2 separate regions of the Homo sapiens genome follow, and region 1 is linked to region 2. Evidence: fine-mapped expression QTL. A gene starts in region 2. The other region holds a variant in brackets. All regions are shown on one strand. Distances are from middle to middle.

Region 1 (2,779 bases), 21 kb after region 2:
TCTCCCGTCTAGCTGTGATTCTATATCCGCCTTTTAATCATTTTCCAGCGTACGGTTCTGTGGCATCAATTCCGTTCACATTGTTATGCAACTATCACCCCCATCCACCTTCAGAACGATTTGCGTCTTCCCCAGCTGAAATTCTATACCTGTTAAACACCAACTCCCCTTTTTCCTCTTCCCTCCGGCCCTCGGCAACCATCCTTCTACTTTCTGTCTCTATGACTTTGTGTCTTGTTTTTTTTTTTCTTTATCTCCAGCTTCCCAAATGCTGCCTGCTATATAGTAGGTGTTTAGTAAGTATTTGTTGAGTGCACGCGTGGGAAGGTGCCAGGGTGGGCGGGAGGGCTGGGAGCGGATGGCGGAGATGTTCAGACACAGCTGGGGTCGCGGGCGTCTGACTGCGAGCTGTCCTCTCTCCCGCAGGCCTGCTGCTCTTGGTGAGCCTGGAGGTGTTCCGGCATTCCGTGAGGGCCCTGCTGCAGAGAGTCAGCCCGGAGCCTCCCCCGGCCCCACGCCTCACCTACGAGTACTCCTGGTCCCTGGGCTGCGGCGTGGGGGCCGGCCTGATCCTGCTGTTGGGGGCCGGCTGCTTTCTGCTGCTCACACTGCCTTCCTGGCCCTGGGGGTCCCTCTGTCCCAAGCGGGGGCACCGGGCCACCTAGAGCCACGCGTGAGACTTCTCTAAGCAACCACCGAGCCCTTTGACCTTCTCCATTGTACCCCCAAGATCTTTTTGCCCCATCTCCTAGAGAAACTGTGTTCTCCCTGCTCGGGGGCCCATGTTTTTTTACACGCCTGCCTCCTGTCCCCTTATCCTTTCTCCCTCTGTAAATACGTTTTTCTCTGTGGCTGTATGTGGGTTGCTTGGGGGTGGGATGGGAAGAGGCTCTTTGCAAACGAGGGTCCCCAGAGAAGACTGGCGGGGACCTGATGGGGTAGCTGGGGTGTGGGGTTGGGGGATGAGGTCAGGGGGTCTTGGGTGGGAGTTGGGGGCCCCTTCATTTCCCAGGTCTGGATCGATTCACTTGCCGGGAGAGACTTTTTACAACTCATCTGCAGCTCCGGGTGCGGTTGGGGGAGATAGCGAAGGGTCTGGCCTCGCTGTGATCTGATTTGGGATTAAAGGTTTGGAAATTTAACAACTTTGCTTTGGAGTCTATTTGTGATGTGATCGTGCATTCTGGGGTAAAGAAAAGTGACCCCATATTCCCTCCAGAAACATACCCTCCAGAAACACTTTTAAGCCCAGAAGTCACATGAAAACGAACCCATACACAATGGTTGAGAGTGTGGAAAACACAATATATTTTTTATTTTTATTTTTATTTTGAGACGGAGTCTTGCTCTGTCTCCCAGGCTGGAGTGTAGTGCTGCAATCTTGGCTCACCGCAACCTCCGCCTCCTGGGCTCAAGTGATTCTCCTGCCTCAGCCTCGCAAGTAGCTGCGTTTACAGGCACGAGCCACCATGCCCAGCTAATTTTTGT[ATTT/A]TTTTTTTTTTTTTAGAAGAGACGGGGTTTTACCATGTTAACCAGGCTGGTCTCGAACTCCTGATCTCAAGTGATCCACCTGTCTCAGCCTCCCAAAGTGCTGGGATTACAGGCGTGAGCCACCGTACCCCACCCAGATTTCCCCTTTACACATGACTCCTGTCATACGTGATTAGGATTTACCCCCAATGACCTTATTTTAACTTGATTATCTCTGTAAAGACCGTATCTCCAAATGAGGTCACATTCTTAGGTACTGGGGGTTAGGGTCCAACATATATATATATATATACATTTTGTAGGGGAGAACATTCAACCATTAACAGTGTATATATTCTAAATTGTGTTTTCTGGTCGGGTGTGGCGGCTCACGCCTGTAATCCCAGCACTTTGGGATGCCAAGGCGGGTGGATCACCTGAGGTCAGGAGTTCAAGACCAGCCTGGCCAACACGGTGAACCCCCGTCTCTACTAAAAATACAAAAATTAGCTGGGTGTGGTGGCAGGCACCTGTAATCCCAGCTACTCGGGAGGCTGAGTCAGGAGAATTGCTTGAACCTGGGAGTTGGAGGTTGCAGTGAGCCGGGATCTCGCCACTGCACTCCAGCCTGGGTGACAGAGCAAGACTCCGTCTCAAAAAAAAAAAAAAAAAAAAAAAAAATCAAAAAGGTGGGGGGAAGGGGGATTGGTTCAGGAAAGCCTTCCGAAGAAGATGACGAACTTGAGTCTTCAAGGTGAGTAAGAATCAGAGAAAGTGGAGAACGTCACGGGCGTTCCAGCTGGGTGGGAGAGCCTGGACAGAAACAAGAGGAAAAACATGATGAACCTGTGAGTGAGGAAATGTGAACGCTGGTGTTCAGAGTGAGACACAGGAAACGTGAGAGGGTTGGGGTGGGCTGTCTTATGAACAAGGTGGAGAGACTCAGATGCTCAACAGAACAGCTTGGCCTTTACCCTGAGGGTACTGAGGAGCCATGGGAGCTTGCTGAGCAGAGACACACTGGCATCAGGTCAAGGGGTTGAAACAAGGTTTCTTATTCTTGAAGTCACTAAATTGCAGACCCGGAAGACAGACTAGTGGTTGCCAGGTGTTAAGAAAAGGGTGAGTCTTGGCCCCACGCGACGGCTCATGCCTGTAACTCCAGCACCTTGGGAGGTCGAGGCGGGTGGATCACCTGAGGTCAGGAGTTCGAGATCTGCCTGGCCAACATGGTGAAACCCTGTCTCTACTAAAAACAAACAAACAAACAAAACAAATCAACAACAACAAAACATACAAAAATTAGCTG
Region 2 (2,779 bases):
CCCTGCCGCCATGCCACACGGCTGTCCTCTGTCCCTGCTCCTGGGGGAGCTGAAACTGCATGGAAGGTCCCCCAGGGGTGCCCCGTCTAATAAACTCGATGAAGAGGAGTGCTGCTTTCATTCTGTGCCCCTGACAGCCGGCCCTGCCCTGAGGCCTGCGCTTTCTCCAACATGGAAATCAGGCCTTCCATCCTTCAAGACCCAGGGTTCTGGCCCCAGTCTCCTCCCTGAGGCCCAGGACTCTGGGTCTGCCAACGCCTTGACCAGGAGTCCAGGCTCCCCGGCCCTCCTCCTCCCTCAGACCCAGGAGTCCAGGCCCAGCCCCTCCTCCCTCAGATCCAGGAGTCCAGGCCCCCTGCCCCCTCCTCCCTCAGACCCAGGAGTCCAGGCCCAGGCCTTCCTCCCTCAGACCCAGGAGCCCAGGCCCCCAGCCCCTCCTCCCTCAGACCCAGGAGCCCAGGCCCCCAGCCCCTCCTCCCTCAGACCCAGGAGCCCAGGCCCCCAGCCCCTCCTCCCTCAGACCCAGGAGTCCAGGCCCCCAGCCCCTCCTCCTTCAGACCCAGGAGTTCAGGCCCCAGTCCCTCCTCCCTCAGACCCAGAAGTCCAGGCCCCCAGCCCCTCCTCCCTCAGACTCAGGAGCCCAGGCCCCCAGCCCCTCCTCCCTCAGACCCAGGAGTCCAGGCCCCAGCCCCTCCTCCCTCAGACCCAGGAGTCCAGACCCCCAGCCCCTCCTCCCTCAGACCCAGGAGCCCAGGCCCCCAACCCCTCCTCCCTCAGACCCAGGAGTCCAGGCCCCCAGCCCCTCCTCCCTCAGACCCAGGAGTCCAGGCCCCCAGCCCCTCCTCCTTCAGACCCAGGAGTTCAGGCCCCAGTCCCTCCTCCCTCAGACCCAGAAGTCCAGGCCCCAGTCCCTCCTCCCTCAGACTCAGGAGCCCAGGCCCAGCCCCTCCTCCCTCAGACCCAGGAGTCCAGACCCCAGCCCCTCCTCCCTCAGACCCAGGAGTTCAGGCCCCCAGCCCCTCCTCCCTCAGACTCAGGAGCCCAGGACCTAGGAGACCAGGTTCCTCTCCTCTCAGATCCAAGATTCTGGGTACCCAGGCCTTCTTCCTCTACCACTCAGAAGTGGGGTACCGAGGCTTCTTCTCCCTTAGGGACCCAAGACTCCTGGCCTCAGGCCCTCCTCCCTGAGACCCGGGGCCCTGCCTCCCGCCCCTCCTCCCTGGTAACCCCAGTCAGACTTGCTGCCCCGCCCGTCTCCTGCTGCCCGGGAGACTGCGGAGCTGGGACTCTCGGCGCCGCTCTTGCCCCTTAGTGAAATGAAAGTCCCATCAGGCTCGGCCCCTTCCTCCCCGGGCGGCCTCCCTCCCCCCTTCCTCGTCCCCTTAAAACACCCGGGATCCCTATGGCAACAGGCGCCGGGCGACAGGTGCGGGTGTTATTTACGGGTCAAGCCCGAAATAGCCCCGAGGGTGGAGGGTGGAGGGTGGGGGGTGGGCGGGTGGGGACGAGGCCGGGCGCGGGCGGAGGCCAGGCCGGTGGCGGTGGCGGGCACAGCCGGACGCTTCGGAGGCAGCGCGGAGCTGGGGTCGGCGCGGGGCCGAGGCAGGAGAGCGAGAGGGGCCCCTGCTCGGGAGTCGGGGGTGGGAGCCCCGAGGGGGGGCCCTGGCCTGGGGCTGAGCCTGGCGCGAACCCGACCGGGAAGGCCCTGGGAGCCCGGGGGAGGGAGACGGACTGATCCCGAAGGGGCGCAGCGTCTCTTGCGGGTCGCGGTTGGCCTTTGAACCCTGGGGGGACTCAGTCCTGGTTTTCCGAGCCGCAGTGCGGACCACAGCCCCATAGTGTGAGCCCCAGGAGGGCCCCCGGTCCCATCTGCCCCAGCCCTCGGGGAGGCCCCGTAGCCTCCCGCCTCTGGACTCCACTCTGTCTTCCGGCCACCGGCCCCTTTTCCAGGCTCAGTAGAGACCTCGGATCTTTTCTGAATGGCAGGGGAGACCCCTATCCCCTTTTCCTGAATTCCAGCGAGGCCCAGTCCTCTTCTGAGCCCCAGCCAGGGCTCTGTTCTTCTCCTTCTGTGGATGCCGGGGTCCTACTGCCTCTCTTGAGACCCGGATTGAATTCCGACCTCCCCTTGGGAGCTTCCCGGGACCCCAGGTCTTCCTTTTCCGAATCCCAGAGGGTCCCCAAGTCCTCTGTTCTCAAACTCTGAGCCCAAGGGAACCCCGGCCACATCTCCTCCAAACACACACAGGACCTCAGGTCCCTTCCTGGGTACCCCAAACTCTTAGCCCTAGTGGGGTGCTCAGATCTCTCAGGAAAACCAGTTTCCCTTTTGTTAACCCCCCAGCGGGGACCCCAAAGCAGCCCCTTGGAGCTGCAGGGAGCTTCAGCGGGCACCAGTTCTCATTCCTCTGGAGCTCTTGGGGGGACTCCCTCCTGGGAAGCCGAATTCTATCTCTAAACCTCAGGGTGGGGGCCTTGTTTTTCCTCTGGGCCCCGTCTTCTTTGCCAAGTTCTTGAGGGCAACCTAGACCCTCCTCTGAACCCCAGAGGCTTCCCCAGCCCTGGGGATCATTTTTCTCTTCTGAACCCCAGAAGCAATCTCGACTTTCGCATTTGAGATTCCAGACAGGACTCGGCTCTCCCTCTTTCATACCCAGGGGAAACTGAGTCCCTCACCCCCTTCAAGACCCCAGGCCGCTCCTCGCTCCCGCCCCTCGAGGCCCTTCGCCGGCTCTGCCTCCTCCCCCTTCCCGACCCCACCGGCCATAAGATGATGTGG

Evidence for each region. PIP is the estimated chance that this variant, and not a neighbour inherited with it, causes the effect. A credible set is the group of variants that fine-mapping cannot tell apart.
Region 1: its variant is the best candidate, but not a certain one, in a credible set for the expression of CACNG6 in whole blood (INTERVAL, PIP 0.68).

Annotation. Positions count from the first base shown.
Region 1 is chr19:54,011,525-54,014,303 of GRCh38, forward strand. It overlaps CACNG6 (calcium voltage-gated channel auxiliary subunit gamma 6), which reads left to right. Exons shown (of 4, transcript NM_145814.2): 4 at 427-1,142. The coding sequence ends at 665. Among named protein-coding and RNA genes, the nearest start is that of CACNG6, 21 kb to the left of the region's middle. The variant ATTT/A (reference allele first, on the strand shown) is at 1,489.
Region 2 is chr19:53,990,108-53,992,886 of GRCh38, forward strand. CACNG6 (calcium voltage-gated channel auxiliary subunit gamma 6) reads left to right here and starts at 1,530. Exons shown (of 4, transcript NM_145814.2): 1 at 1,530-2,779. The coding sequence starts at 2,771. It overlaps CACNG8 (calcium voltage-gated channel auxiliary subunit gamma 8), which reads left to right. Exons shown (of 4, transcript NM_031895.6): 4 at 1-108.